Linked DNA regions of Homo sapiens. The protein of the gene in region 4 purifies or fractionates together with the protein of the main gene of each other region. This does not show direct contact. Each region holds a gene or a part of one and is shown on either strand. Other genes may lie near its edges. The genes, in order: DSC3, NXF2B, EVPL, ZC3HC1, KDELR2, EHD4 and ALDH3A1.

The links.
Region 1: the proteins of ZC3HC1 (region 4) and DSC3 purify together in Homo sapiens (affinity purification with mass spectrometry; one large-scale study listed by BioGRID and IntAct). This does not show direct contact.
Region 2: the proteins of ZC3HC1 (region 4) and NXF2B purify together in Homo sapiens (affinity purification with mass spectrometry, with the first as the bait; 2 studies listed by BioGRID). This does not show direct contact.
Region 3: the proteins of ZC3HC1 (region 4) and EVPL purify together in Homo sapiens (co-immunoprecipitation; 2 studies listed by BioGRID and IntAct, with this or other methods). This does not show direct contact.
Region 5: the proteins of ZC3HC1 (region 4) and KDELR2 purify together in Homo sapiens (affinity purification with mass spectrometry, with the first as the bait; one large-scale study listed by BioGRID). This does not show direct contact.
Region 6: the proteins of ZC3HC1 (region 4) and EHD4 fractionate together in Homo sapiens (co-fractionation; one large-scale study listed by BioGRID). This does not show direct contact.
Region 7: the proteins of ZC3HC1 (region 4) and ALDH3A1 purify together in Homo sapiens (affinity purification with mass spectrometry; one large-scale study listed by BioGRID and IntAct). This does not show direct contact.

Annotation. Positions count from the first base shown.
Region 1 is NC_000018.10:31,029,243-31,032,742, reverse strand, and holds part of DSC3 (desmocollin-3 isoform Dsc3a preproprotein), read left to right. Parts: intron 1-466; coding exon 467-551; intron 552-1,570; coding exon 1,571-1,770; intron 1,771-3,114; coding exon 3,115-3,234; intron 3,235-3,500. UniProt on the Homo sapiens protein: A component of desmosome cell-cell junctions which are required for positive regulation of cellular adhesion. Required for cell-cell adhesion in the epidermis, as a result required for the maintenance of the dermal cohesion and the dermal barrier function.
Region 2 is NC_000023.11:102,360,009-102,363,508, forward strand, and holds the end of NXF2B (nuclear RNA export factor 2), read right to left. Parts: intron 3,438-3,500; coding exon 3,255-3,437; intron 845-3,254; coding exon 784-844; intron 638-783; coding exon 593-637; 3' UTR 387-592; downstream 1-386. UniProt on the Homo sapiens protein: Involved in the export of mRNA from the nucleus to the cytoplasm.
Region 3 is NC_000017.11:76,017,307-76,020,806, forward strand, and holds part of EVPL (envoplakin), read right to left. Parts: intron 2,348-3,500; coding exon 2,222-2,347; intron 1,755-2,221; coding exon 1,608-1,754; intron 1,295-1,607; coding exon 1,140-1,294; intron 953-1,139; coding exon 855-952; coding exon of another isoform or gene 789-854; intron 606-788; coding exon 433-605; intron 1-432. UniProt on the Homo sapiens protein: Component of the cornified envelope of keratinocytes. May link the cornified envelope to desmosomes and intermediate filaments.
Region 4 is NC_000007.14:130,020,375-130,023,874, forward strand, and holds part of ZC3HC1 (zinc finger C3HC-type protein 1), read right to left. Parts: intron 3,350-3,500; coding exon 3,137-3,349; intron 2,152-3,136; coding exon 1,945-2,151; intron 1-1,944. UniProt on the Homo sapiens protein: Required for proper positioning of a substantial amount of TPR at the nuclear basket (NB) through interaction with TPR.
Region 5 is NC_000007.14:6,467,153-6,470,652, forward strand, and holds part of KDELR2 (ER lumen protein-retaining receptor 2), read right to left. Parts: intron 2,603-3,500; coding exon 2,444-2,602; intron 1-2,443. UniProt on the Homo sapiens protein: Membrane receptor that binds the K-D-E-L sequence motif in the C-terminal part of endoplasmic reticulum resident proteins and maintains their localization in that compartment by participating to their vesicle-mediated recycling back from the Golgi.
Region 6 is NC_000015.10:41,966,058-41,969,557, forward strand, and holds part of EHD4 (EH domain-containing protein 4), read right to left. Parts: intron 59-3,500; exon of another isoform or gene 1-58. UniProt on the Homo sapiens protein: ATP- and membrane-binding protein that probably controls membrane reorganization/tubulation upon ATP hydrolysis. Plays a role in early endosomal transport.
Region 7 is NC_000017.11:19,745,499-19,749,708, forward strand, and holds the start of ALDH3A1 (aldehyde dehydrogenase, dimeric NADP-preferring), read right to left. Parts: upstream 2,801-4,210; 5' UTR 2,761-2,800; intron 115-2,760; exon of another isoform or gene 1-114. UniProt on the Homo sapiens protein: ALDHs play a major role in the detoxification of alcohol-derived acetaldehyde. They are involved in the metabolism of corticosteroids, biogenic amines, neurotransmitters, and lipid peroxidation.

The DNA.
Region 1 (3,500 bases), on a different chromosome or scaffold from region 4:
GCGCCTGTAATCCCAGCTACTTGGGAGGCTGAGGCAGGAGAATTGCTTGAAGCTGGGAGGTGGAGGGTGCAGTGAGCCAAGATCACGCCATTGCACTCCAGCCTGGGCCATAGAGTGAGACTCAGTCACACACGCACACGCACACGCACACGCACACACACACACACACACACACACACACACACACATACACACAGAAGCAGTTAGAGCAGAGCAGACATCATTGTCTTGTTCCTGATGTTAGAAGAAATGATTCTGTTTTTCTCCTTTAAATATGAAGTTAGTTGTTGTTTTTCATAAATGAACTTTACCATATTGAGCAAATTCCTTTCTATTCCTAGTTTGCTGGGGTTTATTGTAAATGGGTGTTGGACTTTGTCAGTTGCTTGTTTTACATCTATTGATATGATTATGTTTTTTTTAATCTTTATTTTCTACTGTATTAATGTGACCTTTTAAATTCTAGATCTTCAGTCGTGCTGGTGAAGCCTGCAAAAAGGTGATACTTAATGTACCTTCTAAACTAGAGGCAGACAAAATAATTGGCAGAGGTGAGAAATTTTAAAAGTCTTTTTAAAGCAGAAATTTAGTTTACATAGGCTGGAAAGAGCATGATATAATACCTTTGCCTTTTGGAGTTAGCCTGAATCTACTAAAAAGGGATGTTCCTCCAGGGAGTAAACCAGAAGTTATCATTCTGTTAAAAATGTGAAGAGAGAAATATGTCATCAGCCCTGAAGATGTTTATTTATTTATTTATTTTTGCTAAATATTTCCACCTGGGACAGATTTGAATTAAAGTGAAAACACGACTCATGGACAGCAAATGAACCCTTTGAGAGGTCTTTTCTTAACTGAGTAGTAATTTATCCATTTGCCTTATGTTAAGACAAATAGTTGAAGAATGGCATGGATGACAGGTACATTTTGATATTTATATGCATTTTATTACCTGTTACTAGAGGCCAGAAATCCCAGGGAAGAAAGACTCCATGTAGAGTTTCAGTGTGCGGCCTTGGAAAGCTTGGAACACACAGAGTATTTTGGGCCTCCAGGGAAAATTGTGTACAGAAAAGTGCCAGTGGGAAGAAAATTTCGGAGATTGGATTTTTCTAACATGACTCTTTACCAAACTCATACACTCCATTGCTCTTTGGCTCATGGCTTCTCACTGAATATAGGTGTATCTTAAACACTCAGATTGTATTGTTAGGGAAACTCTTCTATATGTTTATTCAGGTGTGTTGGGGGCATGTTGCTCAGTTTTGTCATGATTATAACATGCCCACATCTTTAATTGGAAGGTCATTTTCATAAGTCTATTAGAAGCATATAAAGGTTTAAAACACCTTATTTAATAGAAATATACACTCAATAATTATTTGTTAACTGAAAGAAAATGATCATTTTTTAAGTAATGTAAAAAACAGGTTAAGATATCTGGTAAATGCAAAGTGATTGGCTTATTTCATCCCACTTCATGGTTTTTAAGAATATTATATAAATTATTTTAACACGTTTTTTTTTCTCATGTGTTTTTACCTTACAACTTGGAAATTTTTACTTGCAGTTAATTTGGAAGAGTGCTTCAGGTCTGCAGACCTCATCCGGTCAAGTGATCCTGATTTCAGAGTTCTAAATGATGGGTCAGTGTACACAGCCAGGGCTGTTGCGCTGTCTGATAAGAAAAGATCATTTACCATATGGCTTTCTGACAAAAGGAAACAGACACAGAAAGAGGTTACTGTGCTGCTAGAACATCAGAAGAAGGTATTTAAAGTACATTAAATATTTTCAGTCATTTTTTCATTAAAATACTCTTATTAAAAATTGCAAAGAGAAACAAGGATAAATAGGGTATTTTCCCCTTTTGTTTTCATTTTGTTTCCTTTCCTTTCACTTCGTTTCCATTTTCTTACCCTTTTCCTTCCCCTCCATTTTCTTACCCTGTCCTTTTCATTCCTTCCCTTTTCCTTCTCCTTTCCTTCCCCTTCCTTTTCCCCTTCCTTTTCTTCCCTCCCTGTCACCTTCCCTCTCTCCCTTTTTCTATCCTTCTCTCTACCTCTCACTCTATTTTTGTCTCTCCCTCTCTCTCTTTCTTAACACTTGTTGAACTCTGGTTTTGGTTTTACTTTATTAAATCTGAATTATTTCTCCTCTGTGAGGGCTTCTTCCACCTCTACATTCTAACTATTGTCTTTTGTGCACTGGTGTCAGTTTGGTTATCCCTCTATTATAGAACTCAGAATTTTTTTACTGCAAAACCTTTACAGTGAGGAATGCCATTATGAAAGTAGTCACAAAATGATGAAAGGTTTAGACTGGATTACATCTAATCTGTGTTAACTGTATCAATAATAAAGCTAATTTAAGTTACAGCTTAGCACTTTGCTAAATGTTTAATGCAATTATTAATTAATTCTTATGAAATAAAATGTCTCCCTTGCTGCATCATGAAATGAGATGGACATCACTAAAAAGTCTAATAGAACTTTTTCCCATGATAGAGATGGCACTATCTGCACTGTTTGATATGACAGCTCAATATTAATGGCTACTCTGCACTTGGCATGTGGCTAGTGCAACCAAAGGATAGAGCTTCTTATGTTATTTAGTGTCAGTTAATTTAAATTTAAATAATCACATGACTTATGGTGGCCAAGGGCTACCATATCAGACTGTGTAAATAGAGCACTATGGCAGTGAAGGACATACATTTTCTTTCTCTGACCTAAGGGCATGAGCTTTTAACTAAAAGAACAAGTAAGTGCTATCTGGAGATTGTTGTAGACAGAATATGTTCTATGTCTCCATTTGGGACAAAGCAAGAAGAACTAAGAATATAGTGGTGATTTTCCTAACATGAAAGTATAGTCAGTGTTAGAATGGTATACAAAAAGAAATTCTCTGTTTCTTGAAACCTTTAAAATCTGGATATGTTCTTTCTTACCCTTCTAATGCAGAAAGACTTTATTAACTGGTTTAGCTCCAGCATGGAAATGCCTGACACTGAAACTCCAAAGAAGGATTAGGTTTATGAGCTGTCCACTATTTTACACAAAGTAGACTGTGATGCTTTTGTTTATTCATGTATTTGTTTTTCTCTAAATTCAGGTATCGAAGACAAGACACACTAGAGAAACTGTTCTCAGGCGTGCCAAGAGGAGATGGGCACCTATTCCTTGCTCTATGCAAGAGAATTCCTTGGGCCCTTTCCCATTGTTTCTTCAACAAGTAGGTTTACACCTTTTCTGGTCAGGGTTGCTTTAATTCTAAGAGTCTGTTTCATTGAGATTTAATACCTCTTTAAACATATAAAAATAAACAGATCTGATTAAAGATGTTCATGAGGTGTAACAAAAGTAAAATGAGAAAGAAAATTACTAAAAACCTAATAATATGAGAAAGGCCCTAAAGCCATTGAATGATCTTTATTTGTTTATTCATTTATTTAGCAGGGAGTTACTGAGCACTTAACTATATCCTGCGGGAGGTACTGC
Region 2 (3,500 bases), on a different chromosome or scaffold from region 4:
CCGGGTAGATGGGCTGAGTATCCCCCTCCCCCGCCACCCCCCGCCGCAGGTGCTACCCTGAGACGACTCCTCGAAAAGTGCACCTTTGGGAAAGGGAGGGGTCGGGACGGTGGATGGAAGCCCCTGGTGTGCCAAGGTAACATGCCTGCTTCTGTGGGCCTCCAGGTCGAGCATCTGACAGAGTCCAACTGTCTCTCAAGGCCAGTCTCTGGAAGGAGCGTGTGTCCTTTCTCATGAGGATTTACGGACAAAATTACCTATGAAGGCAAGCCAGATTCATGTATCTGCTAAGGCCAGCCAGGGATGAACAGGGATGCAGTGCTTTCAGTCCTGGTCCCGCTGGCTCACGGCTGGGGCAGGGGAAGAGCAATCCAGGGCACACAATGTACAACGTGTAACGTCACTCTTTATTATGAAAATAAAATGGTGATCATGAGTGGGGCGAATACACAGAGCAACTGGCTCTTTGGGTGGTTATGTCACGTGGCCTGCAAGTTAACGTTGGCTTCCTGGTCAGCCAGGCCTTAGGCTGGTGAAAAGAGGAAACAAAGAGGATGTGAACGAAGACAAAGAAGACATCGGAGGGCTCCTTTTAGGAGATTTGCTTGAAGGCCTCCGCGGGGATCTTGCCCTCGGTCTAGAGAAAGTAAAGAAAAGGAGTTGGGATGTTAGTAGAGCCAGGTGCACTGGGTTCCATCCCCACACTACCTGGCCTCCATCTTCTTGGCCCTCCTGACGACCCAGAGACAGCTGTCTTTTACCCACTTGATTCCCAGACCTCACCTGGAGCATAGTGAAGGCCTGGCCAGCTCTAGTGTAGTTCCACTCATTGTCCTGAAGGCACCTGGGGTGGGAGAAGAACAGGTGCTCTCCATTACTAGCCCAGGACAGACACGCTGACTATGCAATGCCACCCTTAATCTATGCTACCTTTTTGCTGGGTCACATGTACCAATATGAGCACTATTGTAACAATGAAAAAAGGCCTGGGGAAAACCAAAACGCCCATCCCTGACATTAATGCCCACTAGAATTCAAATCAGAAACATAGCGGTATTCAAATGAACAAGGGAGCTTAATACATATTGATAAAGAAAGATGTTCAAGAAATAACAAGTGGAAATTCAATAATACGTTTCTTTTCTATTGAGATATAATGCACATACTGTAGCAGTCACCATTTTAAGGTGTACAATTCAGTGCTTTTAAGTCTATTCACAAGATTGTGCAACCATCACACCTATCTAATTCCAAACTGTTTTTATCACCTCAAAAAGAAACTCCTTAACTGTTAGAGATCACTCCCTGTTCTCCCTCTTCCCCAGATCTTGGCAACCACTACTCTGCTTTCGGTCTCTACGGATCTGGCTATTCTGAACACTTCGTATGAATGGAATCATATAATTATGTGGCTTTTTGTGACTGGGTGCTCCCACTTAGCACATAATGTTTTCAGGGTTCATCCACGTCATAGCATATATCACAACTACATCCTTTTTTGTGGATGAATAATATTCTAATAATATTCCACCGTATGGATGTACCACATTATCCATTCATCAGCTGAAGGTCAATCCATGTGTTTCCATTTTTTGGCTATTTGGAATAATGCCACTACGGAAATTCATGTGCAAGTTGTTGAATGGGCATATATTTTCATTTCTTTTGGTATACACTTAGGAGTGGGATTACTGGATCATGTGGTAACTCCATGTTTAAGATTTTGAGGAACTGCCAAAATCTTTTTGCCAGCAACTGCTCCACTTTATGTTCCCAGTAGTAATACATGAGATTTCCAATTTCTCTGCATTCTCACCGACATTTGTCATGTTTCCTTTTATGGACTAAAGCTAGCGTAGTGGGTATGAAGTGGTAACTCACTGTGGTTTCGATATGCGTTTCCCTAATGACTAACGATGTTGAGAAGATTTTCACGTGCTTCTTGGTCATTTGTATATCTCCTTTGGAGAAACATCTATTCAAATCATTTCCCCATTTTTTAATTCGGTGGCTTGTCTGTTTGTTGTTGAGTTGTAAGGGTTCTTCTTGTCGGCGATGTGATTTGCAAATATTTTCCCTTGTTCCCACCAGTCGGTTTTCCGCTTTCTTGATAGTGTCTGCTGATGCACAAAAGCTTTTAATTTAGATGAAGTCCAATTTACCTATTTTTTCTTTGGTTGCTTGTGCTTTTGGTTTCATATGTAAGAAATGGTTGCCTAATTCAAGGTAATGAAGATGTACACTTACAGTGTTTTACAGTTCTGGCTCTTATTTTAGGTCATTGATCCATTTTCTGCCAGTGTTTGCACGTGATGTGAGTTAGGGGTCAAAATTAATTGTTTTGCAAGTGGATATCCACTTCTCCCAGCACCATTTGTTAAGAAGACTATTTTTTTTCTCCATTGGATTTTTTCAGCACCCTGAATGATAATCAACTGGACATAAATACGTGAGATTATCTGTGGACTCTCAATTATATTCCATTGATTCCCACGTCTGTTCCTATGTCGGTACCATACAGTCTTGATTAATGTAGTTTTGTAGCAAGTTCTGAAATCGGGAAGTGTGAGTCTTCTAACGTTGTTCTTCTCTTTCAAGATGGTTTTGGCTGTTTGGGGTCCACTGCATTTCCACATGAATTTTGGGATTACCTTGTCAATTTCTGCAAAGAAGTCAGTTGGGATTCTGTCAGGGACTGCAATGAATCTGTAGATTGTTCTGGGTGGTACTGCCATCGTAATGATATTAAGTCTTCCAATCTATGAACGTGGGATGCCTTTCCACGTATTTAGGTCTTCTTTAATTTTTTTCAGCAATGTTTTGCAGATTTCAGAGTACAAGATTTGCGCTTCTTCTCTTAAATTTGTTCCTACATACTTTCTTCTTTTCGATGCTACTGTAGATGGACTTATTTTCTTAATTTCATTTTTTTGGATTGTCCATTGCAACTACATAGAAGTACAAATGATTTTTGTATATTGTATCTTTCAACCTTGCTGACCTGGTTTATCAGTAGTTTATTGTGGTTGATTCTTTCAGATTTTACAAATGGAAGGTAATGTCATTTGGGCATTATGCCATTTAAAAAAATATTTACATATACCAGTATAAAAGTATGATACCTTTTTCATGGACCCACTTTTTTTGGAAGCAAAATACCCAGATAGTTATTTTTCCAAATTGCATGTGAGTTTCCATTACTCATTCCTCTGATGTCCCAACAGCCCCCATCCCCATGTACTCCCAGCACTCACTTCTGAGACCACTCCAGTTTCATCCCAGACTGGGCAGAGAAAGCCTGCACCATTTCCTGCTGCTCCTGGGAGAGGGAGGGCTCAGAGCTGGAGGAGAGTGTGGACACTGGGATGGAGAAGGCACTCTGAGTCTCTTGGGGGCTGGCATCCCTCACAAACAGCTCGTCATTCACGATGCACAGACTGGAGGAAAGAAAAATGCACCCTCAAACTGGACAAGTAGATAACTCCGCACCCCCAACAACA
Region 3 (3,500 bases), on a different chromosome or scaffold from region 4:
GCTGTTCTTGGGTAAGGAGTTTACACAATGCTGCAACCTCCCCAGGTAGGCTCCCCCTTGCAGCCAGGGGACATCTCTTCCTAAGATTCTCCAGGCTTCCTTGCTATTTCAGGAGCTTCACCAGAATACCTCCTGGGGTGTTGACATTGGGCCCTACTGGAACCTTCCTGAATGATCAGGCGAGCTGGGCATTATTACATCTGCTTCAGGGATGAGGAAACCAAGGCCCAGAGAGTTATGTAGTCCAAGATCCTGGAGCTGGTCAGTGGAGGAGCCAGGAGGGGAACCAGCTTGTCTGAGCCCGGGTCTGTCCACACCCTTCTCCATCTCCATCCCAGCCACCGCTCCTGCACTTGCCTCACCTCCCTCAAGTGTGAGCACCAGGGCCGGGCCGCTTCTCATCCCAGCCGCCCCTTCCCGCTGCTCACCCACCTCATGGCTGTGGATGCGGCCCTCCAAGTCCTCCAAGGGTGTGGGGCGGCTCAGCGGGGCCCGCGCCCAGGCCAGCACCTGCCTCTCTATCTGTCCCAGGTCTCCATCCAGCCGGGTCATCTGTGTCAGGAGCTTCTGGGCCTGTGGGTTGGCCAGGTCTGAGCCAGATGGAGCTGGGGGCAGAGGTGCTGGTGAGGGCCCAGGGCCTATCTCCAGACTGCCAGATAGGTGCCCCCACCAGGTGCCCACAGAGGGTCCTGTCGGGGTAGGGTGGAGGGGATGGGCAGGGCCACCCCAGAGATGAAATCCCCAGAGTGATGGTCCCTAACCCAAGGCGACCCCTGCCCATCACAGACCAGTCGGAAGTCGGAATCTACTCCTTCTAGCCCCACAGCCACCTCTCCCCGGGCCACCCTGGGTACCCTGCTGGCTGGGCCGAAGAGACTCCACAGCACTGGCCTTCAGGCGGCTCTGGACTGTGGCCAATTTCTGCTTCAGGGCCTGCAGCTCTGAGGCCAGCCTAGAATGAAGAGGAGATTGAAGAAAGAGGTCCCCACTCTGCCTCTCTCCCTCCCCAGCCCCAGTAGACGCAGCTTCAGGTGAAGGCCAGCCTTTGAGCAGGGGTCTGTTGGGCCATGGGCTTGGACACCGCAGGGCCGGCCTGCTCTGCCCACAGCCTGCCCCTGAGTATCCCTACACAGACCTACCGGGAGGCCCTGGCCACAGCATCAGGGTCTGGTGCTGGGATGCAGAAGCAGGCGGCGGGAGCACGCTTGGTCTCCCCGCCAGGGCCCTGCACGACCCAGGCGTGCGGGTCAGTGTTATCTACCAGCTTATACCGCTCACCCTGCAGCAGCTGCACCTGGGGGCACAGAAAGGGAGCAGCTCCTGAGGGCTCAGGGGCAGGGGGCCAAGGCCAGGGCAGAGTAGGGGCTGGGGACAGAGACAAATGGGGACAGCAGCTGGAACAGGGACAAGAGTAGGGTGGGAGGTGCTGGGGTAGAAAAGAGGCAGGACAGGACTTGGAGAGAGGAGGGTCTGAGTCAAGGGAAGGAGTAGGGCAAAAGTGGGCGCAGGAGACAGCTGGGGATGGAGCAGGGATGGGCTTGGGCAGGGGCAGGGGATGGGTTGGGCGGGGCTGGATGGTGGCAGGGGTGAGGTGGGGGAGTTCGCACTTCTCCTGAGTCCCAGTCGCAGATGCTGTCCACGTGCAGGGGCTGCTGAGGGGGGTTTCTTCGCTGTGGCAGAGGGGCCACATCCCGGCTTCGCCGCTGCAGGTCCCCAGTGGCCCTCTCGGTGACGGCCAGCCGTTTTTCCTCTGCCTGCCGGGGGCCCAGGCAGTGGGGGACTCAGGCCAGGCTGCATTGGAGGCTGGCCACACCATACCTGTCCTTCAAAAGGCCTAGAGGCTGGCCTTCATGAAGGCAGGGGTCTCTAAGTCAGCAAAGTAAAAGGAGCCCCTCTCTGGGGGACCTAGGATCCTGGGATCTGCTAGTTGCAGGGAGGGGGATGGCACAGCATCACCCAGGCCACCAAGCAGAAGCTAGACAGGCCTCAGAGCTCTCCCAGGCTGCCCTTGTCCCACTGCAAATGAGGAAACTGACGTCCAGAAGTGGGAGGAGCTTGCTGGTACCTGGCCAGCCTCCTGCTAGAGTAAACCCCCCTGCCAGCACCCAGGCCAGGGCTTGGGATAGGACTAGGTACCAAGGCAGAAGGGGTGAGGCCCAGAAAAATGGACAGGACCAATTCCCAGAAGTGGGGTGCAGACGGCCTGGTGGGGTTGTCTCACCTCCAGCTGTTGCAGCAGCTCTGTGGGGGCGCCAGGGGGGCCCCCAGGTGCAGGGCTGTACTTGGCATCCAAGTTGGAGTTGAGCTTCGCCAGGGTCTGGCTGACTGAGTCGGCCTCTTCCTGGAACTGAGTTCACTGGGTGGTCAAGGGCAGAGCCTCGTGCAACCTGCTGCCCACTGACCCTACAAACCAGCTGAACCTAAGCCAGCTAAACACAAAGCAGCTAAACCTAAACCAGCTAAACACAAACCAGCTAAACACAAACCAGATAAATGTGAAACAGCTAAACTAAACCAGTAACCGCTAAGCCAGCTAAACCTAAACCAACTAAACACAAATCAGCTAAACCTAAACCAGAAAAACCTAAGCCAGGTAAACCTAAACCAGCTAAACTTAAACCAGCTAAATCTAAACCAGCTAAACACAAACCACCTAAACCGAAACCAGCTAAACCTAAACCAGCCAAACACAAACCAGATAAACCTAAACCAGCTAAACCTAAACCAGCTAAACACAAACCAGATAAACTTAAACCAGATAAACCTAAACCAGCTAAACCTAAACCAGCTAAACACAAACCAGATAAACTTAAACCAGATAAACCTAAACCAGCTAAACACAAACCAGATAAACTTAAACCAGATAAACCTAAACCAGCTAAACTTAAACCAGCTAAACCTAAACTGTCACTCTCCCCTACTCTGGTCGGTCTTTCTTTTTCCTACCCAGGCGGCAGGACCTTTTATCACTGGTGTGCTCTTGCAAATGGGGTCTTATTTGTGCACTGAACTTAATTTTTTTAAGTGGGTCATAAAACACTTGGTCTTCGTCCTTCCTGCACAAATGAAGGGCACCGTCACCTGCCTCCCTCCAGCACCTGAAGTCTTTCTTGCTGGGACAGAGGGTATTGGAGCTGCACTTGTCCCAGCCCCGGAGAAGAAGCTGTGCTTTAAAGAAGCATTCCAGGTGCTTTGACGGAATTTTTGTCAACGTGTGTGATCACAGTCTTGTGGTTCTATAGGAAAATGTATGAAACATTATCTGCCCCCAAATCCCAGTTGCATATTATATCAGGGTTTCTCAACCGTTTTTTTTTTCATTATTATTCTCCTAAAGAGCCTTTTAAGAAATATTTTATTTAATTTCCCCCCACCTCATCCCCATAAAATTTTATTTATTTATTTATTTTGATAGAGATGTATCTATTTGTATAGAGACAGGGTCTTGCTATGTTGCCCAGGCTGGTCTGGAACTACTGGTGTCAAGCAATTCTCCTGGC
Region 4 (3,500 bases):
GCCTCAGCCTCTGGAGTACTGGGATTACAGGTGCACACCAACAGTCCTGGCTAATTTTTGTATTTTCAGTAGAGATGGGGTTTTGCCATGTTGGCCACGCTGGTCTCGAACTCCTGACCTCAGGTGATTCCCCTGCGTCAGCGTCCCAAAGTGCTGGGATCACAGGCATGAGCCACTGTGCCTGGCCTCGGTATATACTTTTTTTTTTCGAACATCAGGATCCTTTACCACACAGTCTCATTAAGCTTTCTAGCTTCGTCACAGCAGCTGTCAGAAGGTTAAGACACACTACCGAAAAAAAAAGTCCTGGAATCCAGGGCCAATTATGAGGCCAACTTTTCCCACTACAAAACAAAAACAAAACCCATAGGCTTTCTTTTTCGTATGGCAGTGACAGAGAGGAGTCTTACTGAAAACTGCCAATGTACTAGTTCCTGAAGATCTAGGCAGAGAAATGCGGATTTTTTTTTCTGTGAAAACTTGGAAAACCTTCACCTGCATATTTACTAAGGGTACTAATATACATTTATTTTTATTTTATTTTTTTTTGAGACAGCGTCTCTCTCTGAAGCCCAGGCTGGAGCGCAACCTCGGCTCACTGCAACCTCCGCCTCCTGGGTTCAAGTGATTCTCCAGCCTCAGCCTCCCCAATAGCTGGGATTACAGGCGCCTGCCACCACACATGGCAAATTTTTTTTTTTTTTGTATTTTGAGTAGAGACGAGGTTTCACCATGTTGGCTAGGTTGTCTCAAACTCTTGACCTCAGGTGATCCATTCGCCTTGGCCTCCCAAAGTGCTAGGATTACAGGCGTGAGCCACCACACCCAGCCATGCAATTTTGGACTTTTAGCATTACTATAGTTCCCTCCAGTGGAATCCTGTAACCCTAGAAAACCATGAATCTAGGAGTGCTGCTCATAAATATCTGCTGACAAGTATTATTTTACTTTGTCCTTGAAAGTTATAGACTACGATCAGAAATTGTTACCAGCTACAAGGAAAATTTGGGAGTGAGCCAGCGAAGGAGAGAACCCAGTTTTCATGGTTCCATATTACCCAGCCTATCACTTCCAATCTTTACACAGAGCAAACACTTGACTTTTCTTCTCAGTTGTCACCCACATTTGTAACCCACAGCAGTTATGGCTGCAATGGCTAGCAGAGTCACAGTCTGGGCTGTGGAACAGAGTAAAGTAATGTGCCCAGCGTGCGGAATGAGGCCATCATCTTGGTGTCAGAGCCCAGTGCTCCAAACAGCTAAGTTAACTGGCCAGGCTCCAAGTGCAAGTGACAGCAAATGAAAGAAAAAGCAGCTGTCTGCAACATGAGGCCGGAGCAGCTGCCTGTTCATCTATTTCTGTTTCCGTACTCCTTTTCTACTTGGAGTCACTTTATTTAGGAGAACAAAAGAATTTATCAGAACTTGACGGAATGCCATATGCTAAACTACAGAAAGACGAACCGGTTCTATGCCTAATCCCTAGGACGAAAGCAGAATGAGTCTAACTTGACGTATAAGCCGGGCACGGTGGCTCACGCCTGTAATCCCAGCACTTTGGGAGGCCGAGGCGGGGGGATCACCTGAGGTCAGGAGTTCGAGACCAGCCTGGCCAACATGGTGAAACCCTGTCTATTAAAAATACAAAATTAGCCGGGTGTGGTGGTGGGCGCCTGTAATCCTAGCTACTTGGGAAGCTAAGGCAGGAGAATCGCTTGACCCAGGAGGCGGAGGTTGCAGTGAGCTGAGATCGTGCCATTGGACTCCAGCCTAGGCAACAAGAACGAGACTCCATCTCAAAAAACAAACAAACAAACAAAAAAACCCAAATAACTTGACGTATGAAAGCTGAAGGCAGGCGGGGTGCTAATTATAGGCCCAGCCTCTGCTCCACCTCCCATAAACAGCAAGTGCTGCCCACACACAAGGCAGTGGCGTATCTCACCATGGAGTCCGTTTCAGCTGGCTGGCTAGACTGTTTGTGCGCCAAGAGGATGGTCAGCACTGCTTTCCAGCCTGGCTCTGCTGGGGCGCTGGCATCTGGTTCAGTTCCACCATTCTCCCTGCTTTCTTTGCCAAGTGTGATATTCACCCAAGGGCACCAGTCTCTATGCTGAGAGGTGGGATCAAAGAAGCTTCGGGAAGATGTGTCCTGAGGAAGGAGAAAAAGAAATAGCATTCATAGGTAGATGCTATGTAAGTTCAGGGAGGCACTGCTGTTAGTTATCAAGTCCAGAATCTCACAACTACCCATACTTCGAGTGTTTATGCTCTCCTTCAAACTTTGCCTACACATTTTCCTCTCATTTTCTTTATTTTTTCACTCCTTTTGTGTTAAACAAACTATACCTTATCACAAGGGATAAGGGATACCCAACCCCCAGGCCATGGATGGGTACCAGGTCGCACAGTAGGAGGTGAACAGCAGGCGGGCAAGCAAAGCTTCATCTGAATTTACAGCTGCTCCCCATTGTTTGCATTACCACCTGAGCTCTGCCTCCTGTCAGATCAGCAGTGGCATTAGATTCTTATAGGAGCAGGAACCCTACTGTGAACTGCACATGAGAGGGATCTAGACTTCGGGCTCCTTATGAGAGTCTGACACCTCATGATCTGTCACTGTTTCCCGTCACCCCCAGATGAGATCATCTAGTTGCAGGAAAACAAGCTGCAGGTTCCCACTGACTCTATATTATGGTGAGTTGTACAATTATTTCATTATATATTACAATATAATAATAATAGAAATAAAGTACACAATACATGTAATGTGCTCGTATCATCCCGAAACCATCCTCCCAACCGTGGTCCGTGGAAAAATGGTCTTCCATGAAAACGGTCCCTGGTGCCAAAAAGGTTGGGGACCGCTGCCAGATCAGGTTTGTCCCTGTATCACACCGTTGTTCCATTTGCCTGAAATATCTATTATTTCTCCAGAATCCACTCCAAAGGAACAAAAAGGAGCAAAAAACATGACTGACATTTTTTCCCTTTGGTCATCCAACTTTAAATTTATTCACATGGTCTACTTTTTGCATTGGACCACGGAAGGGCTCCTGCCTGCTTCTCCATGCTGCCTAGGGAGGGCCCAATATGCTGTTTATGCTCAGCCACTGCTACATGCGAGGTGGACTCACCGAACTGCTGGAGGAGCAGAGGCGAGCTCGCTTGGCTTTCCGCAGAGGGCTAGATGGTACCTCCAGGCCAGGGGTGTCTCCTGTTCCCATGCTTCGGGTCACTGGGCGAGTTCTGGTGGTGGGGCTAGCAGCCTCTGGCTCAGGACGGTCAACAGGACTGGAAGAGTCCCAGCTCCGAGTTCGAGAGACAATGGGACCAGGGCTCTTTTCAGCCTGAAGGAAAGGGGAGATAATGGAAGTACACGAATGATATTAATGATTATGGTCAGAAATACTTCTTTCTTTAATCTTTTTTCTTTTTTTTTTTGAGACAGAGTCTCGCTTTGTTGCCAAGGCTGGAGAGCAGTGAGGCGATCTTGGCTCA
Region 5 (3,500 bases), about 120 Mb from region 4:
TACAGAGGTTTCTCCTGGACAAGCTTGTCCTGCTCCAGATCTGGGATACCAAATCAACCCTGCTTTCCGCCAGGATTGACAATACTGATAATTGATAAGCTCCTTCCACTTCCTCACTGCTGTTTTTCCTCACTGACTGATCTTGCCAAACTACTGAAATATTTTCACTATTTTTCTTATTCCTTAAGCTTTCTGGTGTGGTTAAATCAAAGGGGTAGAAGTCACAACTGTAATTATGGAAATTCTCTGCCCAGCGTATGACTTTATTCACGATGATGATAGAAGGACTTTCAGAGGGTCCTTGAGTATTTTAAAAGTCCAGGCATGGCTGGGTGTGGTGGCTCATGCCTGTAATCCCAGCACTTTGGGAAGCCGAGACAGGCAGATCACCTGAGATCAGGAATTCAAGACCAGCCTGGAAAACATGGTGAAACCCGGTCTCTACTAAAAATACAAAAATTAGCCAGGCATGATGGTGGGTGCCTGTAATCCCACCTACTCGGGAGGCTGAGGCAGGAGAATCGCTTGAACCCAGGAGGCGGAGGTTGCAGTGAGCCGAGATCATGCCACTGCACTCCAGCCTGGGTGACAGCGAGACTCTGTCTCAAAAAAAAAGAAAAGTCCAGGCACTCCCAGCACCCATCAGACACCCAGGGTAGCACAGTGACTTGATCGGCCCCAGGATGTGAAGCAGCACCGTTTGCCTGTTCAGCAGGGAAAGAAGAGGCACTCAGGAGCAGATCAGCTCACTGCACAGTACTAGGGGCACCACAAACCAGCTTTCCTAAAGGCAAGAGGTGCAGAGTGCTGCTAAGCAGGGTCACAGACACGACATCAGTGCACATCTGTACATGAAAAGCAAACAAAATGTGGGCTACAGGAGGGAGACCTTGTTCTTCCCACACTGGGACAGGCAGGGCTCTGTGTTTGGTACCACTGAAGTCAAGATAATGAAATACAGTTTCAAGTTTCTATTTCAAATGAATCAGACAGTAAACTGTCAGCAGACACCTAAATATGTGGGTGCTTAATTCTCATCTACGATTTTTTTACACCAGTCATGAACATTGCACTAGAGTTTGCCAAACCAGAAAATAAAAACAAAAAACTCCATGAAAACCTACACGATCTGCAAACATGCAAATAGGTCCATTCTAGATAACCAGACATGACCATGAAATTAACTTTTTTTCTTTAGATGGAGTCTTGCTCTGTCGCTAAGGCTGGAGTGCAGTGGCTCGATCTCGGCTCACTGCAACTTCCGCCTCCAGGTTTAAGTGGTTCTCCTGCCTCAGCCTCCTGAGTAGCTGGGATTACAGGCGTGCGATACCACACCCAGCTAATTTTTGATTTTCTTTCTTCTTTTTTTTTGAGACAGCGTCTCGCTCTGTCGCCAAGGCTGGAGTGCAGTAGCGCGATCTTGGCTCACTGCAAGCTCCGCCTCCCAGGTTCACGCCATTCTCCTGCCTCAGCCTCCCAAGTAACTGGGACTACAGGCGCCCGCCACCACGCCCAGCTAGTTTTTTGTATTTTTAGTAGAGACGGGGTTTCACCGTGTTAGCTGGATGGTCTCAATCCCTTGACTTCGTGTCCCACCTGCCTCAGCCTCCCAAAGTGCTGGGATTACAGGCGTGAGCCACTGCGCATGGCCAGTTTTTGTATTTCTAATAGAGACAGGGTTTCACCATGTTGGCCAGGCTGAATGCCTGAACCTCTGACCTCAAGTGATCTGCCCACCTCGGCCTCCCAAAATGCTGTGATTACAGGTGTGGTGAGCCACCAGGCCCAGACCTAAATAACCTCTTTTTTTTTTTTGAGAGACGGAGTCTTACTCTCTCGCCCAGGCTGGAGTGTAGTGGCACAATCTCAGCTCACTGCAAGCTCCACCTCCCGGGTTCACGCCATTCTCCTGCCTCAGCCTCCCCAGTAGCTGGGACTACAGGTGCCCGCCACCATGCCCAGCTAATTTTTTTTATTTTTTAGTACAGACGGGGTTTCACCATGTTAGCCAGTATAGTCTCGATCTCCTGACCTCGTGATGTGCCCACCTTGGCCTCCCAAAGTGCTGGAATTACAGGCGTGAGCCACTACGCCCAGCCATAACCTCTTTTTTCTTTTCCCTCGAGACAGTCTTGCTCTGTCACCCAGGCTGGAGTACAATGGCGTGATCTCGGCTCACTGCAGCCTCCGCCTCCTGGGTTCAAGTGATTCTCCTGCCTCAGCCTTCTGAGTAACTGAGATTACAGGTGCGTGCCACCACACCCAGCTAATTTTTTGTATTTTTAGTAGAGACGGTGTTGCACCATGTTGGCCAGGCTGGTCTCGAACTCCTGACCTCATGATCCACCCAAAGTGGAGGCTGAACTCCGCCTCGGCCTCCCAAAATGCTGGGATTACAGGCATGAGCCACCATGCCTGGCCCTAAGTAACCTTTTAAACTAACCTCAAGAGGAGAGAAATCGTGATTAACTAAAAATGAGAGGCCTCCCACAGGGACCACCAGAAACTCCACTCGGAAGGTATCATGATTTCCATCGTAGGTTGCCTTAAATTTCAGGTAGATCAGGTACACTGTGGCATAGGAGCAGGCAAGGTAGATAACCTACAAATAAAAGAAAAAACACCAGGTGTCAATACCTTGCCACTGTTCCAGCACCCCCCAGCTTTTTTAATCACCCATGTATTTGGAAAGGCAAGATTTTTTTCCTTAGCTTTGTTTTTGGAATTTTAAAACTTAAATATAGTAAAATTCTCTTTTTTGGAGGTGTTCAGTTCTGAGGCATAACCACCACCAAAATTAGGACACAGAATAGTTCCATCATCCCCAAAATTCTGCCATGCTGCCGCTTCGCAGTCAAACTCCCCCAGGCTTCCTTCACCTCCTGCAGTGCAATCACACTTATGTTCTCTGTCCATAGTTTTGCCTTTTCTAGAAAGCCACATAAATGGAGTCACATAGTATGTTGCCTTCTGGGTCCAATTTCAGTTAGCCTAATGCATCTGAGAGGCAACCAAACTTATTGTGTGTATAGCAGGTCTGCCAATAACATCCTTTGGTTGTAACACTGATGAGAAAAGAAACTGGTTCCCGGCTGGGGCCGCCATCCATGGCGTTTGCATGCTCTCCCCGAGTCCACGTGGGTCTTCTCCAAGAGATACTCTTGGAGAATCTCCCACCAGAGATACTCTGGTTTCCTCTTACATCTCAACGATGCCAGTTAGGTGAACTGGCATGTGTGAACTGTCCTAGTGTGAGTGGGTGTGGGTGAGCGCGCCCTGTGATGGAATGGCATCCTATGCAGTTGGGGGAAAGTTCGCGCCTTGAACCTGAGCTGCTGGGATAGGCTCTGGCCACCTGGGACCCTGAAATGAAGTAAGTGGGTTGGAAAATGAATACAAACTATGGTAAAATAATTCATAAAGTAGTATACAATAATTATACATATGTACCACAATAAACAATGTAGTACAAAAGCACTCAGTGAGCCTGCTATATTTGT
Region 6 (3,500 bases), on a different chromosome or scaffold from region 4:
CCAGCTGCTCCCTCTCCATGGCTTCCCTTCTGTCCACTTTTCATTCTGCTGAGGTTGTGCTTGTCTTTACCCAAACCCCTGTGATGCTTGTGGCCAGGCCTCCTTCCCCCAGGCCTAGCTGCTGAGAATTTGACGCCTCACATCCCACTCATTCCTCAACCCGCGCCATCTGGCTTCCTTCACCACCACTCACAGGCACACCTCTTGGCAAGGTCACCTGGCTCCCAAAGGCTAATCTACTGGTTCTGTTTCAGTCCTTTTCCTGGAAGCATCTGACACTACTGACCACCACCTCTCTCCCTGGCTTTTGTGGGGGTCATCGTTGCTTTACTTGCCTCGTATCCCCTTTTCTTGGTAGCAGCATCCTCAGGAGCTGCCTTCCCCAGCTCTCAGGCCACGTGGTTGGTGGGGCTGACCTCCCCACTCCCCACATTTCATGCCCCTGCCCCTAAGGATTGGTTCAGGGATGGGCATATGGTCAGGGTCAAACCAATGAGACTCAAGCCTGAGACTTTTACTGGGGCTGCTGAGCCAGCAGAATTCGAGGCTGGAAATGGAGGTGGCCGCCTGCCCACCCCTGAGAAGGAACACAACATGAGGAGGGCCACAGAGCCAACAGAGTCCTGGTGTGTCTCCTGCAGTCCTGGGCCAAGCCTGAAGCTTGCACATCCTGGTCTGATGGGTTTCAGGAAAACGTTCTTATCTTTTTATCTAAGCTAGCTTTGGTTGGATTTCTGTCACTTGCAACCTAAAGAGATCTGAGACAGCACTGAGCCACTACCCTCCCAGGCAATTACCCACCTCTTTGGTACTTTCCCCGGAGGGTCTCCACAAGCTCTGCTTCCTCTCACTTAAGAGTCCTGTGCAAGGACTTCTACTTCCCAGATGCTGGCTACTAAATGCTGACACTCCCAAGTCAACAGACCAGCCCAGATATCTCCCTGAGCTCCAGACCCATGTCTTACCCCTCATGGACATCGCCACCTTGGTGTCCACTCAAACATGACAGGTCTAAATCTAAACTTATCATTATGCCCCATCCTTCCTCTTCTTGGATCCCCATCTCAGTGAACAGCTGTACTCCCCAGTTACCCCAGAAACCGAGGCCTCATGGGTGACACCTCCCCACCCTCACTCCCTGGCCCTCTTTGGGCAGCTAATTCTCTGCTCATTCCTCAGGGCTCAGCTTTTAGGCTGCATTCTCAGGGAGGCAGCCTTTTCCAACCCGCAAGCCTGAATGAGGGGGTCCCTCCTATGCCCCCAGCCACCCTGTGTTTCTAGTGTTACAGCCCTTGTCACTCAGAGCTGTGGCCTGTTGACTCTCTTCTGTGATGGCTGGCCCCAACCCTGAAATCAAGATCATTTGAATAAATGAACACTAGCATCTGTAGGTGTGATCTTATATTGTATATTGAAAATATAGTCTAATTTTCTGTAAAAATTAAATATCTCAATATTTTAGAGAGATCTGTAAAGGGTATAATATTTGGAACAGAAGATTGATTTTCAGGAGCCCCAGTATCTGGATGAGTGTGAGAACCACTAAATAGGACCCATAGTTTTTCTGTGTGAGATTTTATTTTTTTAAAAATAGATGAACCAGGCTGCCTATTAGTGAATGCCTTCACTTCCCTTTTCCTTAATTACTGAGTCTAGAAACTTATCAAGGGAATGAAGCAGGCCTTTGTTCCTATTCAGAATCCATTTCCCTGCTTTTTTGAAAATGAGAACATCTGCCTGCTTCCAGTGTTCCAATACTTTTCATATTCTTCACAATTTCTTAAAAGCCACCAAATACAGTTCTTTGAGCAGAAATGCAAGTTCTTTCATCCATGTGTCCGGCCAGAGATTTCCTGAACCTCGCCTGTGGCAGGCCCTGGGAGAGCTCCTCAGCCTGTGGTTTTAATCCCCTCTTGAACACAGCTGGGCTCCCTTCTGCCATCTCTGGGGCATTTTCTTTGAGGAAAAGGAGGAAGCTGAGTAGTTCTGCTTTCTGTTAATATTGCAGCAAGAGCCCATGAGTGGGCCGATCACTTCCTGATTCTTGTTCTTGTTCTAATCATACCTTAAAAGGCTTTTTTAATGTCCAAGGCACTTTTACCTTCTCAGCCCACTCCAGCTTCTTGATCCTTCATACCGCCCATAAACCTTGTCTGCACCCTTGCACATGCACCCCTGCCCCTTTTTTCCCCTATTAAATACTATAGTTAAATGTTAATATCTAAAGTTTTTAAACACAATTACGGTATCAAGCATTTTATTAAAAATTTTTATCATACTTTGATTTTACCAACTTGAGTGTTATGAACAATGAACATGTTTATACATTGACAAGAATACTCATACAGGGATTGTGGGATGGCTACTTTCACTCCCTTTTCCCTCATCTTTACTCCTTTTTTTTTTTTTTTTTGTAGAGATGGGGTCTCACTATGTTGCCCAGGGTGGTCTTGAACTCCTGAGCTCAAACGATCCACCTACCTCAGTCTCCCAAAGTGTTAGGATTACAGGTGTGAGCCACTGCACCTGGCCCCTCATCTTTACTCTTTAGTTCCTTTGCCCTTGGGTTCTTCTAGCTTATTTCTACTTTGTTTTCTTTCTGGCATCCATTTCTATTTTAAATTATTACACATAGATGCAGAAATTACTTGGCTGGCGCTAGTTGCAGAATCATGAAAATTAAATCACATGATGCTTAGTGTTGAAAGACTGAATTGTTTTGGTTTTTTATTGAGATATAATTCATATACCAGAAAATTTATTCTTTTACAGGGTGCACTCCTTTAGTATATTCACAAAGTTGTGCAACCAATATCATTATCCAATTTCAGAACATTTTCATCACATCAAAGAGAAACTCCACGCCCACTAACAGTCATTCTCTATTTCGTTTGCATGCGGCTATCCAGTTGTCCTAGCACCATTTGTTGAACTATAGTTTCCCCCATTGTTCTAATAGTTTTTAAGTGGTTTCTTAGGATTCTCTACATAGAAGATCATGTCATCTGCAAAGAGTTTTACTTTTTTCTCTCCAGTCTGGGAGTTTATTTCTTTTCTTGCCTTATTTCCCTGCTCTCTACCCTTTTAAAGCCTATATAGTTTCTTGAGTGACTTCCCTCTTTTTTCCTCATTAGAATAAGTTTTCTGGGGAGAGGGAACAGAGCATATGAAGGGAGAAAGTGGAGCTCTTAAAAATGTGTAGTTTGGGATGGGGCGCGGTGGCTCACGCCTGTAATCCCAGCACTTTGGGAGGCCAAGGCGGGCAAATCACCTGAGGTCGGGAGTTTGAGACCAGCCTGACCAACATGGAAAAACCCCATCTCTACTAAAAATACAAAATTAGCCAGGCGTGGTGGCACATGCCTGTAATCCCAGCTACTCGGGAGGCTGAGACAGAAGAATTGCTTGAACCCGGGAGGGGGAGGTTGCGGTGAGCCGAGATCATGCCATGGCACTCCAGCCTGGGCAACAACAGCGAAACTGTCTCAAAAAAAAAAAAT
Region 7 (4,210 bases), on a different chromosome or scaffold from region 4:
GCAGTCAGCCACTCTCCAGATCAGATTGGAGGGGCGCAGTCCGCGATTCCACACCCAAGCCGATAAAGAAAAACCCAGCACCACCCTCCTGGCTAAGCCATTGTTCTAAAAAGCGCTGGTTTCTTGGCAGAGCTGAACCAGGCTTGGTGTGTAAACCACGCGTGCCACACCTGGGAGACGCACGCCCATGCCCGCCAAGGATTCAGAGAGCTGCAGATTTCCACAAAGAGGTGTGGAGGCGATTCCTGCTACCAATACACGAAAGTATAGTGGCAAATCGGGATGGCCCTGCTGGGGGCAATTTGGCAATATGTGGCAAAAGTTTTTCAAACATACTTCTCTGTGACGAAAAGGTCCTACAGCCTTTCCTAAACATTCACGAATAAGAAAGTCATCACTGTTTTCTATAACAGGGAAGTATTGTAAACATCCCAAAGATCCGAAAGAAAGGAGACAGTTTAAATGACTCCTGTCACACCCACGTAAGGGTTTACTGTGCAGTATTTAGGGATTAGGTGGAGCAGGCTATTCAGCATGTTTGTAGGGGCTCTCTCTGCACCAGGGGTGTCTCAGGCACTGGGGATAAGAAAGAAAACAGGTTACAGGCCGGGCGCGGTGGCTCACGCCTATAATCCTAGCAAACACTTTGGGAGGCTGAGGTGGGCGGGTCACCTGAGGTCAGAAGTTCAAAACCAGCCTGGCCAACATGGTGAAACCCTGTCTCTACTAAAAATACAAAAATTATCTGGGAGTGGTGGCAGGCACCTGTAGTCCCAGCTACTTGGGAGGCTGAGGCAGGAGAATTGCTTGAACCAAGCTGAGAGGAGGAGGTTGCAGTGGGCCGAGATTGGGCCATTGCACTCCAGCACTTTGACCGGGAGAATGGAGCCATAATCACAGAGTTCTCCTATTAGATTAGTGGTAGGAGGTAAGGCAAGGTTAGTGAGATTTGCTAGAAGTCAAGAGGCTGTCAGTGGAAGCGGTATTTGAAGGCCTCGGGTAAGTAATATAATTACTTTCAGCGAGACTCCATCTAAAAAAAGAAAAAGAAAGAAAGAAAGAAAGAAAAACAGAAAACAAGTTACAGAACAACAGATGTACCAGGCGTGTGCATGTGTGTGTGTGCGTGTGTGTGTGTGCGTGTGCGTGTGTGTGCATGTGTGTGTGTGCGTGTGTGTGCATGTGCGTGTGTGTGTGCGTGCGTGTGTGTGCATGTGCGTGTGTGTGCGCGCGTGTGCGTGTGTGTGTGGGCGTGCACGCTCTAACATGCAAGAAAGGACTAGAACGGTAGCCCCCGACACGATGAGACAACTGATGGGGGTGGAATTATTGATGATCTGTTTTCCTCTTATGCAATGTTTGACTTTTTGCAATGAGCTTGTATTTTTTAAATTTTGGTGCGTTTTAAGATAGGCACTACATGCTCATGAAACAAAATGTAAAATATAGCAAAGGGGCACAGAAAAAAGTCTGCCTCCCTCCTCCCTGCTCCATCAGCTGTCAGGTGCTGCCCCACAGAGGGGCCACTGTTACCAGTTCCTTACTCCCCTTCCTGAGATACTCAGCCCACTTGCAGACCCGGCATAACTTTTAACATCAGCAGAAATAGGGTATTTCCATTTTTTTAAAAAACCCTATATATCATATGTAATATATAATTATATTGTATATAGATATATGGTCCTGCCTACATTCCAGCGAGTGGCTTCCAATCCTTCCTCTGCCTCCCCTCCCCATAGGCTGACCCCTAATCCCAGGCTTTCTGCACAGGGAGGAGGGACCTGCTGGCATTGAGGGTGCTCTAAGCCTGGCCCTTCCATGGTCCCTCCCTATGTTCTGATAGGAGGCTGGGAAAGCCCCCTCACTGGGACCTCCTCAGTCCCATGGGCCAGGCCCCTCCTGCTGACCACAACCCAGGAGAGAAGGTCCCGCTTCTCTCCCGAGCCTTGTACGGTCAAACCAAGGCAGGCAGCCCAGGTGGGAAGAGCCTGGTGAGCGTGGGACGGGATTGGCCTTGCACCCCAGCATCGCCACTTGGAACTGTGGTCTCTGGGCTGGACGGCCTTCCCAGGACTTCCCCGAGAGACAGGTTAACAAAGGTGCCACTTCACAGAGATGAGTGGACACCATCACGTCGCAGCTGCACCCAAATGGGAGCTGCTGCAGCATGCACTGGGGGCCTCCCCAGAGCCCGTCGCCTCACACCCCACATTCCTGCACCCCGCTCCTCTCACCTGTGCCAGTGTTGACTTTGCCCCCCAGTGACACCTCCTCCCCTCCTCATTGCCTTCCATCCTCACAAAAGCTCTGTAGTGATGCCCATGAAGAAGAAACGGTTATGAGTGCATTTTACAGATGAGGAAAGGGAGACTGAGAAACGTTTAATGCTGTATCTGATCTCACAGTTAGCAGGTGGCATGTCAGGGTTTGAACCCACATGCATCTCTGTCAGCAGCTCATGCCTTTAGCACTCGGCTCTGCTGCCTTCCTTCCAGTCATGGAGTCTGACGGCCCATCAGGGCCTCTCACTCCACGGCCACCTTGGTGTCCCTGCTCCGCGGATCCCTGGGACCTCTGCCTCCTGGTTTGGGGGATGGCAGAGCTGCCAGAGGTCCAGGAGGATGCTCCAGAGATGATGGTCCCAGAGGCAGGGACCCCCTGGAGAGATGATGTAGGACTCTTGACACTTAGGGCCCCGGCTCTGAGTGCAGACTCCACCTAGACAAGAGAAAAAATAAGGAATGCAGGGAAGAGGATTACCTTTGACACAGCCTCTCCCGGTAACTGGGGCTCCTGGAACGGCAAGAGCCAAGAGGGGACGTATTTAAGGACCCTGCTTCCCGTCCATTGAGCCCTTGGAGTTCCTGCCCAGGAAGTTTGCGTGACAAGAAAAAAAAATATTCAAATGTGGGGTGTGGCGTCCTCTGGACCTCTGCTCCCTACAGCCCAGGTTTTGGGGATTAGGTCCCGGGCTGTTTGCTTTTGTTCACTTCTGAAATGCGAGAATGTTTCTGAAGGCTTGGGCAGGGCACATCTCCAATCTTCAAAAGAGCCTATGTTTGCCCTGGGCGTGGGGGCTGCTGATTGATTCAGCCTGGCATGGAGCTCTTCCAGCTTTCCAGACTTGCCGCTGCCAGATGCGGTTCTCTGAGTTCTCTGGTTACATAAGATCGGCAGGGCTCAGCCACGAACCACAGTGAGAGCATGCAGCTCCCCCGAAACGCACCCCCAGCCACCGCTGCCCCGGGCCCTTCACATCCCCCAGTGTGCACAGGGCCCCATTGAGTCAGAGATCCTAACCCTGGGGAGCCACAGGCTGGGGACTTTTGATGGGGGTCTCCAATCCATAAATCTGCTCTCTCGTTGAATAGCTGAGAAGAGGGCCAAGGGTCTGTGTGGTCACCGAAAACCAGAGATGCTTGGGAAGGAAGGAGTCTGGAAAAGCCGTTCCCACGCTGTCTGATCAATGTTCGCTGGGCTCCTGCTCTGCACCACGCTGTGGGGAGGAGGCAGGTGTGGAACAGACTCTCGGCCCCTCTCACCAGGCGCTTCCCGCCACCCTCACCCGCCTGCAGGCAGACTGCTTACCAGCATGGGGTCCCTGCTTCCCATTTCATTCGAGGAAAACACAAGGTTCCGGTCCTGGCCTACGAGTCCTGAGGATGTGCTCTGGCCCTCCTGCTTCTCTCCACCTGGAGCCCCCTTCCCCTACATCCACCCACACGGCTACGCTCCAATGTGCTGTGGAAAATAGCACAATGCTGTCGTCTTCCTCCATTATTTTTTCTCTGGAGCGTTTATATCTTGTTTGCTACCTGTCCCTTAACTCCTGACAGCTAGAATTTGATTTGTTCACTGCTGTAACCTCCATACAGCATTTATAGTAGATGCTCAATAAATATTTATTGACTGACAAAATAAACAGGAAATTTCAAAATAATGTGAACACTGTAGTAACCAGGTAGGCAGAGGATGCTAGAGGGGCTGGGGTGAGAGTCCGTGGGAGGGAACATCATCTGAGCTGAGTGAGAAGCATTTGGGCAAGGAACAGCAAGGGGGCTGGAAGAGCAGAAGCAAAGGCACAGAGGCTGGGAACGTTATGTCACGAAAAAGTGCGATGTGTCCACTGTTGCCAGCAGGAGGTGTGGAGGTGAATGACTCTCCTGGGGCGGGGGCTCACGGAGGCCTGTGGGCCAGGCTGGCTGTGGGG